3 linked regions of the Homo sapiens genome follow. The protein of the gene in region 2 purifies or fractionates together with the protein of the main gene of each other region. This does not show direct contact. Each region holds a gene or a part of one and is shown on either strand. Other genes may lie near its edges. The genes, in order: CHST15, MORN5 and DHTKD1.

Region 1 (3,728 bases), on a different chromosome or scaffold from region 2:
ACACAGAGGAGGGGAAAATGAGCAAAGACACAATCTAACCGCAATGGGAACCTGCCCTGAGACTGACGACCGTGTTCAAATTTGAACTAATATTTGACAATGATTAACAAATAAAGCAAAACTTGGTAGACGGTCAATGACTGTGCTTTCCTCTCCCCCGCCGCCCCACAAAAAAAAAAAAAAAAAAAAAAAAAAAAAAAACTTGGAGAGAATAAAGATAAAAGTTTAATTAAAATCCATTCTACCATAATTTACCTTTCTGACACTTACACAACACACACGCACACACGGTAATTAAGCAGAATCTTTTTACTAGTTGTATATTTAAATTGCCGTTAGAGATTAAAATGTAGAATAGAAGCAGAAAATCAAATTTAACGCAACTTTAAAATCCCAAATGATGGTGATCTGCAAAAGCAACTGTTAACTACCACGACCACATATCAAGCAAGAAGTCCTGGAATGCAATAATGAGAGCCAGCGGCCCTTGAACATGCCTAGCCCAGCGTTCAGGACAGCAGATTCCCTTCCTGGCACTCCATAGCGTAAGCAAACAGCACTCTCTCAGTGCATTCAAATCCATAAGGCTGTCAAATGATCCTTGCTACATCTAAGACATTTTTTAGTCATTTTCCTTCTGTGTTCCCAAAGATGGTGATAGAAAGAAAAGCACTCATTTCTAAAAATCAACCAATCAGTCAAGATTAGCACAAAGCTACTCACATGCAACTCCTGCTTCTTAAGGTCTTCTAAGTCTGGGAGCTGTCTGGTCGTGAACTCAATCCTAGTTGTGATGCTGTTGATAATTAATTTAATGCTTGGATAGTCCTTCATGTATGAAATATTATTTACAGAGGATTGGTGGTGATGCTCCTTTGTGTCACTTGGGTTTTCGCTGTCCATCAAGCTGGGGTTGCTGGGGAAGCCTCCGTAATGGAAAGGTGATGAGATCAGAAGCTCTTGGTGGGCCCCAGAAAGGATGTAAGAAGCCATTACCAAGGTCATTATTATCAGTCCAAAAACGAGGCTACATCGCTTCCCCTTTTTGAAGCGCAAAAACCCACCCCAGTTTTCGTTCCCTTCAGTCCTCACTTCGAGAACAGCAAGCAAGTTCATCTGCTTACTGTCCACACGAAACAGAATTTTGTTTTCTCCTTTGCACGTGGGGCACGCCTGGTGACCGTGATGGGGGCCCCCTTGGCAGTTGACCTGCTGCTTGTGTGCGCCGTCGGGTAACAGCTGTATGCAGCAATTAATGCAGTGCCTCATGGTAGTGCCAGTGCCCTGGGCTGCTGGCTTACCGAGCCATGGGTGGGCCCCCCACGAGTCTGGATGTCCGCAAGTCGTGCTAGAAAACCTTAAGAATGCCTTGTGATCACAGAAGATGGATGGAAAGCACAAATACAAAAATAAGCAGACACCACAGCACTAGAGAAAGAGGGTGCACATTCTTTGGTTCAGCTCCGAAAGAAAACAAAAGGAAGTGATGTCCCAGAGTCATGTTCTACAAGAGCCGCTGCAACCTCAGAGAAGGTCACAAGTTCGGGAGCAGCTCTGCCTGCCCTTCAGGTTTTTCCCATGGCACAAAAAAAGGTGGAAGAATTCTCACTGGGGAATGTGGAAACACACAGAAAATTAAAAGAAATCATGGTCTTCTCATTGATGGATGGATTGCCATGCCATCCACGGAGGCATCTGTGAAGATCTCCCCTTTTACATCCTGAGTACCTTTGGAATATTTCCTCTTTGTGGGGCGCAAACTTTAAAAAATGCCAGATTTCCTACACAGAAAGACAAGAAGCTTTATTACATTGTGTGGTAATAGCAATAACCCAAAGCTCATCCTCCAAGGAGAGACAGATGCTCACTCTCTTTTCCACCTCTAAGTCCAGCCAAGCCAGCCTGGTTCTAAGCAAGTCATAGAAAATCGCGAGCATAAAGGAAGAGGTTTCAGGTTCTTGCAGCTGGCTTTGGGGCTCAATTTCTGCCACCAAACATGGCCCCAATCCCAGCACCACCAGCGCCACATCAAACGTCTCACATTGTGCATAGTCTACATCTCCCCTAATCCCTCTGCCTTGATACTTCTCAGGTACAGGATCTCTGAATCCCAGGATGTTGTGATCATTCTCAGAGTCATGCACAGTCAATGACTACAAATTTGAGGGATGGATTGAAATATCAGTGCTTTTCAGTCAATGAAAAATCTCAAGAATACTAAGGAGGATGGTTAGAAAGGGAGCAGGCAGAGAAAATGTGTTTTTTCCCTCTCACTGGCATCAGCAGTCTCTTTCTTAGAGTTAACCTTTATTATCAGATTAGGAAGCAAAAGTTAATGAAAATTTAGAAACAATGAAATGAGTCTCTCCTTCAGTAGAATGTATCATATTAAAAAACTACTTGACTTTAAGTTATTAAGCAATTAAATCCAATGTATAGGATTCCCTCGAGTGACACAGAGCTTCAGAACCTGACATAATTTTTCACTTTCATCATCTCGAGCAAGATATGATTCTTAAAAACCCATTAATAGAATCCTGTGGTTATAAAATATATTGTTGCCCAAATGACACTTCTTTGTAGATGTCGTAGAAAGAGCCATGGATAAGCATAAAAGGAGACCTACTCAGTTTCTAGCAGTGGTAGATCACCACTAATTGGCTGTGTGACCCTGAGCAAGCCACATAACCTCTCTGAGCTTTGGTTTCCTCAATAGTAAAATTAGGATAATAAGGACACCTTAACAGGTGCTAAATTAGCTACTACATGTAAACAGTTTGAATAATGCCTGCCACATATTTAGCATACCATAAAAGGTAGACAGCATTGATAATAATAGCATCATCAACTATTATGATGATGATTTTTCATTGTCAGTGAATGCCAAAAACATTTGAAATGGAATCAAAGATGAGAGATCCTATACCACATGATTATTCTTTAGCAATTGAAAATTACCCAAGAGTGGTAGACTCATCTCCAACTCTACCCACGCCACCCCTCAAACAACCCTCACTGTCTCCATAGAGGCAGCATTAACTAACCGCGCATCAAGATCGCCATGTACTGGCTGAAGGATTAAACAATCAGAACTCAACAGAAGAAATGTTCATGCCCCTTGGACTGAAAACTTCATGTTTTCTCAAAATATGGTGGCCAAGAAACAGCCAAGCTGTGTTTCCCAAAATGTCTTCCTCCCACAAAATGTTCTGCTTGCCGTTGGTGAGTGTTCTGTGCTTAAATTATTTGGAGAAAATGTGGAATGGACAAAATTACACAGAATTCTTTACAGCTGAACTTTTCAGGGCCTTTGATATGCTAATAAGCCCTGTGAATCCACAAGAGAGGAATATAATACACAAAGTTGGAAGTACCTAATTGGCCAAGGAATCTCACTAGGGTATCAAGGAGCCAGTTTGAGAAAGGCTGGTCAGTAGAGGCTGAGACCTGAGTCCTGCAGAGGCGCTGGGGCGGGGATGCAGAAGGGGCCAGTTCTGGGAAGCCAGGCCAGACATCTCAGGCCCTACCCCCATCTCTTATCCCTGAGGGCAGCTGGAGGGACATGTCAGAAACCTCAAGGATCAACCTCTGCTTCAAACTTGCTCAACCACCCCTGACCCATCGCTTGCTACAAACAATTCTTCCAAACTAAAGAAACAAAAGGGCAAGATCCCCTACTTGGAAACTCCATCATTAAAGCCAAGAAAACATTTTTTCACATGTCCAAG
Region 2 (3,728 bases):
AAGGGGAGAAACTGAGGCGCAGTGGGTAAAGTCCCTTGCCCATGGTCCTCTGGCTAGCACAGTGGAGCTGAGATATGAGGACTGGCCTTCCTGGCTCCAGGACCTGGCTCTTTTGCATTCTTCTACGCCTGCTCAGTTCCTCTTCCCCTTTAAGTTACTTTAGTAGGACACAGTCCACTTATCCGAAACTGTCTTAGTTTCCCTCTCAGTTTGGGTATGAAGGAAAGGGTGGGTGCCTGGGTACCTGCAGGCTTCAAGCCATTGAGGATCTCTGTGTAAAACCTCCGATCATAGCCGTCGCAGTAATGCCAGTTTTTCTCATCATAGTGCAGCCCATCTGAGAACGTATATGTGCCCTGGAAGACAAGGAGCACACACGTGCATCTGAGGAAGCTGAAGGCTTTTGGCCAAGAGGTTCAGATGTCAAGGGAAGTGGGGGCCTTTCTGATGGCTGCAGTAAAGAAGTGGTAACTATCACAATTATTATGGTTGTGACGACAAGAGGGAATGGGTATAAGTGCCGAGCCCTGTCCCTGCCGCTCAAAGTGGGTGAACTCACTTTGGCAGATGAACTTGGGCAGACGACCCACTCTCTCTGGCCCTTCATTTCCTCATTTGTAAAATTAAGTTAATGATAGTGTACATAAAATAGGGTTGATTGAAAATTCAATGAGATAGCACACGTGAAGCATTTAGCACAGTGCCTGGCTGTGATGGTTGATTTTGTGAGACACCTTGACTGGGTTAAGTGAAAGGGATGCCCAGATAGCTGGTAAAACATTTCTGGGTGTGTTCATGAGGGCGTTTCTAGAAGGGATTCACATTTTAATCGGTGGGCTGAGCAAAGAAGTTCCACCCTCACCAAAGTGGGTGGGCACCATACAATCCGTTGAGGGTCTGGATAGAACAAAAAGGCAGAGGAAGCGCCAATTCCCTGTCTCTGCTTGTGCTGGGACATCCATCTTCCTTGCCCTTGGACATCAGCATTCCTGGTTCTCAGGCCTTTGAACTCTGACTGGGACTTACACCATTGATCCCCCTGGTTGAGGCCCTTGGGTTTGGACTGGAACTACACTAACAGCTTTCCTGGGCCTCCAGGTTGCAGAGGGAAGATTGGGAGGCTTCTTAGCCTCCATAATCTTGTGAGCCAATCCCTAATATAAATCTCTTTCCATACATCTCTATATATCCTATTGGTTTTGTGTCTCTGAAGAACCCTGACTGACACACTGACACAAAGTAAGCACTCAATAAATGTTATTATTCTTTTATTATTATTATAGCTGGAAAGGTCAGAGCCATCAGCCACGGCCCTTTGTCCAAACACATACATTCTGCCTTTGCTGCCTTACTGCTAAAGGAAGCCTCAGGATGTAGAAATTGCATTGGCCTGGGCATCAGGAAACACGGGTGGAAATTCCAATGATACTATTAATTCACTGTGTGACCTCGGGAAAGTCACATCCCCTTCCTGGGGCTTAGACTCTCCAAGCTATAAAACAAGGAGCCTTTCTTAACCTTTTTTAGGTCATGAGTCAGGCCCCAAGATGCTCTTAGTGAAACTGATGAAAGCTATAGATGCTTTTCCTGGAGAAAAACTTAGTCCCCTTTACACAGAAACTTCTGTATATAAATCAAGAGGTTTCAGTGACTCCCTGAATTCTATTCATGACTCACAAATACCAGGGGGTAAGAATCCTTGGATTAGGTAAGTTATAATGATAGTAGCAGTGATGGTGGTAATAAGAGCTAACATTTATTGAGTGCCTCTTGTGTGCTGGGAACTTAGCAAAGTGTTCACATATATATATTGAGGTGCCTTGTACTATTGTGGTAGGCTGAATAATGGTCCCCCAAAGATGTCCCTGTCTGCTGCAACCTGTGAATATGCTACTTTACATGGCAAGAGGGATTTTGCAGATGCAATTAAATGAAGGATCCTGAAGTGGGAAGATTATTTGGATTATCTGGGTGTGCCAAATATGATTGCAAGGTTCCTATGAGAGGGAAATAGTAAGGTCAGGGTGAGAGAAGAAGAGATGACGATGAAAGCAGAGGGACGAAGGGTGACGTGATGATGAAAGCAGAGGTCGGAGTGATGCGTGGCCATGAGCCAAGGAATGCAGGCAGCCTCTAGAAGCTGGAAAAGGCAAGGAAACAGGTTTTCCCGTAGAGCCTCTGGATGGAATGCAGGCTTGCTGACTTATTTCAGACTTTTGAGCTCTAGAACTGTAAGATAATACATTTGTGCTGATTTCAGACTAAATTTGTGGTAACCTGTTATAGTACCAACACATAACTAATGCAACTAACTGTCCCGAGTTGATAGGTGAAGAACTCTCAGGGAGGTGAAGTCGTGGGCCTAAGATCAGGCAGTAAGTGGTGTAACAGATGCAAACTCATCATGGCCTCTCCACAGATCCTTCCAGATCTAGAGGGAGAGGATTCTAGAGCCCTGGGAGATCCAGAAGCAGGGAGAAATTAGCCGGGCATGGTGGCACATACCTGTAATCCCAGCTACTCAGGAGGCCTAGGCAAGAGAATAGCTTGAACCCAGGAGGCAGAGGTTGTGGTGAGCTGAGATCACACCACTGCACTCCAGCCTGGGCGACAGAGACTCGTTTTCAAAAAAAAAAAAAAAAAAAAAGGTCAGGTGCGGTGGCTCACACCTGCGCACCTGTAATCCCAGCACTTTGGGAGGCCAAGGCGGGTGGATCACAAGGTCAAGAGACTGAGACCATCCTGGCAAACATGGTGAAACCCAATCTCTACTAAAAATACAAAAATTAGCTGGGCATGGTGGTGCACGCCCGTAGTCCCAGCTACTCGGGAGGCTGAGGCAGGAGACTCGCTTGAACCCAGGAGGCGGAGGTTGCAGTGAGCCGAGATTGTGCCACTGCACTCCAGCCTGGTGACAGAGTGAGACTAAAAAAAAAAAAAAAAAGTGGGGGGAGTGGGGGAGAAGCAAAGAGAAGAGTGAATGGAACAAGGTGGGCACCAGACAGGGAGGATGGGGTGCCAGAGGGTGAGGCTCTTCTTGCGTGAGGATCTCTCCTCCACAGCATCCGTCCCCCCAGCTGATCACCTTTATGGCCAATCCGTTTTCCCAAATGGCGTCGTATTGGCTTCCGCTGGGGAAGTACAGGGTTCCCTCGCCGTGAAACATGCCATCCTTCATTTCCCCAACATATATTGTTTCGGTAGGGAGGATGTACTTGGCTTTGCCCTCCATCCTGTAAAGACACAGGGAAATCACTGAGCCCTGTGTGACAGCTGGAGGATCAGAGCTGGCAGGCAACAGAGTGAGCAGGAACCCCGTTCTCAGCATTCTCATCCTTCTCATCCCAGCAGTACTCTGCTGAAAACAAAATTTTTGTTTTGTTTCCCTCAAAAGCTCAAAAACGAAAAGAGGGGAATAGAGTTTGCTCTGTTCATTCTCCCCTTCACCTAGAGGCTCACTCTCACCTTGGAGTTCACACTGCTCCCTGAAATAAACCCCCCTAGTAGGCCCAGAGAGCGTAGAGATGTGCCCAAAACCACACACAGTAAAAACTGTGGACACTAGAGCCCAGGTTTTCTGGCAGCTAGTTCTGTGATTTCTCTGTCCCCCATGACCAACCCATCCTTGCCTATTATGCCACAAGTGGAATATTAGGGAAAATATGAAATTTAGAGACAGGAGTAAGGGTTTGAAGCTTACCACCATTATATATATATATAATCTTGGA
Region 3 (3,500 bases), on a different chromosome or scaffold from region 2:
TTCCACTTCTGTTTTCCTTGCATGGCTTATGAATTAACTTGGGGTTTGGGCTGGCAAACCTGCTCCTTCTTAGAGCACAGATGTCATTATCTCTCTGGAAGTATGGCCTTCTTGGAAACTTTGTGGTTCCCATACATATAACAAGACAAGCGTGAAAAAAAAAAAGACTTTAAGTGTGGTTTTACTTCGTTTCTTGTTTACTTTATTATCTTTTCTTTTTTATGGCTTTTTTTTTGAGACCGAGTCTCACTCTGTCACTCAGGCTGGAGTGCAGTGGCGAAATCTCAGCTCACTGCAACCTCTGCCTCCTGGGTTCAAGTGATTCTCCTGCCTCAGCCTCCCGAGTAGCTGGGACTACAGGCACGTGCCACCACGCCCAGCTAATTTTTGTATTTTTAGTAGAGACAGGGTTTCACCATGTTGGCCAGCCTGGTCTCAAACTCCTGACCTCAAGTGATCCTCCCACCTCAGCCTCCCAAAGTGCTGAGATTACAGGCATGAGCCACTATACCTAGCCTATTTTTTTTTTTTGCTTGTTTATTTGAAAATGAAAGTCTTTGGTATTAAGGCACATAACACAAATTATCAGTGTGGTTCGTTCTTTTTCTACCCTGTCTCCCAGTTTTTGGTAACACAACAAGTATCTTTTAGAGGTTTGGGCTGTGGTCATGTTTCTTCTGTGAGTATTCATTTAAATATGAACCTTTAACTACAGGAGATCATGAAACCTGGATTTCAGAATCAGTCTTCAAATTCCACAGAAATAGATAAATATATAAGGCAATCAAATATTCTATGTTTGTAAATGCCACGTTATCCTATGCATTTTAATTTTTCACAGGCCAGAAACTTGTAGTGAATAAATTGGGAGTAGGCAGAATTGGATTTCATTATGATATGGCCGGCCCTCCCTCCCTTCCTTCCTTCCTTCCTTTTTTCCTTCCTTCCTTCCTTTTTTCCTTCCTTCCTTCCTTTTTCCTTCCTTCCTTCCTTCCTTCCTTCCTTCCTTCCTTCCTTCCTTCCTTCTTCTTTCTCTCTCTTTCTTTCAAGATGGGTTCTCAATCTTTTGTCCAGGCAGGAGTGCAATGGTGCAATCATAGCTCACTGTAGGCTCAAATGCCTAGGCTCAAGCAATCTTCCTGTCTCAGCCTCCCAAGTAGCTGGGCCTACAGGTGCATGCCATCATACCTGGCTGATTTATTTTATTTTATTTTGTGGAGACATGATCTTGCTGGGTTGGCCAAGCTGGTTTCAAATTCCTAGCTTCAAGCAACCCTCCTGCCTTGGCCTCCCAAAGTGTAGATATTACAGGTGTGAACCACTGCACCTGGCCTGATAGGGTGTTTCTAAATAGAAATCTTGAAATCATTAGCCAGACATTCTGTTTACCTTTCACATAATTTATAATACTCTATTTTAATCCTTCATTTTTACCCAGTACATTGAGCTGATCTTAAGATTGTGGTGGCGGGCGCCTGTAGTCCCAGCTACTCGGGAGGCTGAGGCAGGAGAATGGCGTGAACCCCGGAGGCGGAGCTTGCAGTGAGCCGAGATTGCGCCACCGCACTCCCGCCTGGGCAACAGAGCGAGACTCCGTCTCAAAAAAAAACAAAAAAAGATTGACTTCTGAAATAAAAGGTGAAAAGGCCATTTTCTTTAAAATGATGATAAATGAGGCTGGTCGCTGTGGCTCATGCCTGTAATCCCAGCACTTTGGGAGGCCAAGGAGGGTGGATCACCTGAGGTCAGAAGTTTGAGACCAGCCTGACCAACATGGTGAAACCCCGCCTCTACTAAAAATACAAAAAATTAGCCGGGTGTGGTGGTGCATGCCTATAATCCCAGCTACTAGGGAAGCTGAGGCAGGAGAATCACTTGAACCCGGGAGGCAGAGGATGCAGTGAGCTGAGATCGTGCCATTTCACTCCAGCCTGGGCGAAAGAGCAAGACTCTGTCTCAAAAAAAAAAAAAAAAAAAGTTATTCCAACCTGAAAACCTAGATTTCTTAATCCCTTATGTTTCTTTTCTCCCCACCCGCTCCCCTTGCCTCATGATTTAGGTCCATGGTGATGCTTCTTTCTGTGGTCAAGGGATTGTTCCTGAAACATTCACGCTGTCCAATCTCCCACATTTCAGAATTGGTGGGAGTGTGCATTTGATTGTTAATAACCAGCTGGGTTACACCACTCCAGCTGAAAGAGGAAGGTCTTCTTTATACTGCAGTGATATTGGTACGTAACACAGGGAGGAACTGATATTGCTGAAGCCGACATGGAATTCCTAGGGAAACCTCTGGTGCACACAGAACAATGAGCCTCACTGGTTATCCCTCCTTTCATTTAATTAATTAATTAATTAATTAATTTTTTGAGATGGAGTCTTGCTCTGTCACCCAGCCTGTAGTGCAGCAGCACGATCTTGGCTCACTGCAACTTCTGCCTCCCGAGTTCAAGTGATTCTCTTGCCTCAGCCTCCTGATTAGCTGGGACCACATGCGTGCACCACCATGTCTGGCTAATTTTTTTTTTTTTTTTTTTTAGATGGAGTCTTGCTCTGTTGCCCTTTCCAGCTTGTACTCCATGCTGGAGTACGTGATCTCGGCTTACTGCAACCTCCGCCTTTCAGGTTCAAGTGATTCTCATGCCTCAGCCTCCCAAGTAGTTGGGACTACAGGTGTACACCACCACACCTGTCTAATTTTTGTATTTTTAGTAGAGACGGGGTTTCACCATGTTGGCAGGCTGGTCTTGAACTCCTGACCTCTGGTGATCTGCCTGCTTAGGCCTCCCAAAGTGCTGGGATTAAAGGCGTGAGCCACCATGCCCAGCCTATCAGTGTGATTTTTAAATCCAAAGAAATAAGACAAGGATGGAGCCACAGTGTGCCATCTCAAATTTCTTATAACTGGATGGGTGATCTGGTACAAGTCAGAGATCAACACAATGAGTACAACACCAGAGTTGTTATCTCTAGGATATTCAAACTTGGAGTGCCCAGGGGCTTAGTGATAAGGGATGTGTTCAACCACTAAACTTGGTGAAATAGTATAGTTAGAAATAAGATGTGAAGGCTGGGCACAGTGGCTCACGTCTGTAATCCCAGCACTTTGGGAGGCTAAGGCAGGTGGATCATCTGAGCTTGGGAGTTCGAGACCAGCCTGACCAACATAGAGAAACCCCGTCTCTAATAAAAACACAAAATTAGCTGGGCATGGTGGTGCATGCCTGTAATCCCAGCTACTCGGGAGGCTGAGACAGGAGAATCACTTGAACCTGGGAGGCGGAGGTTGCAGTGAGCCAAGATCAGGCCATTGCACTACAGCGTGGGCAACAAGAGCGAAACTCCATCTCAAAGGGCAAAAAAAAGAAATAAGATGTGAAGAATCAAAGTCAGCTTCTTTTTTATCTGTGGAAATTGGTAGGTTTTTTTGTTGTTGTTGTTGTTTTGAGAGTCTTGCTCTGTTACTCAGACTGGAGTGCAGTGGTACAATCATGGCTCAC

What was found.
Region 1: the proteins of MORN5 (region 2) and CHST15 purify together in Homo sapiens (affinity purification with mass spectrometry; 2 studies listed by BioGRID and IntAct, with this or other methods). This does not show direct contact.
Region 3: the proteins of MORN5 (region 2) and DHTKD1 purify together in Homo sapiens (affinity purification with mass spectrometry; one large-scale study listed by BioGRID and IntAct). This does not show direct contact.

What each region holds. Positions count from the first base shown.
Region 1 is NC_000010.11:124,044,944-124,048,671, forward strand, and holds part of CHST15 (carbohydrate sulfotransferase 15), read right to left. Parts: intron 1,782-3,728; 5' UTR 1,270-1,781; coding exon 724-1,269; intron 1-723. UniProt on the Homo sapiens protein: Sulfotransferase that transfers sulfate from 3'-phosphoadenosine 5'-phosphosulfate (PAPS) to the C-6 hydroxyl group of the GalNAc 4-sulfate residue of chondroitin sulfate A and forms chondroitin sulfate E containing GlcA-GalNAc(4,6-SO(4)) repeating units.
Region 2 is NC_000009.12:122,166,273-122,170,000, reverse strand, and holds part of MORN5 (MORN repeat-containing protein 5), read right to left. Parts: intron 3,234-3,728; coding exon 3,086-3,233; intron 357-3,085; coding exon 245-356; intron 1-244.
Region 3 is NC_000010.11:12,089,454-12,092,953, forward strand, and holds part of DHTKD1 (2-oxoadipate dehydrogenase complex component E1), read left to right. Parts: intron 1-2,059; coding exon 2,060-2,231; intron 2,232-3,500. UniProt on the Homo sapiens protein: 2-oxoadipate dehydrogenase (E1a) component of the 2-oxoadipate dehydrogenase complex (OADHC). Participates in the first step, rate limiting for the overall conversion of 2-oxoadipate (alpha-ketoadipate) to glutaryl-CoA and CO(2) catalyzed by the whole OADHC.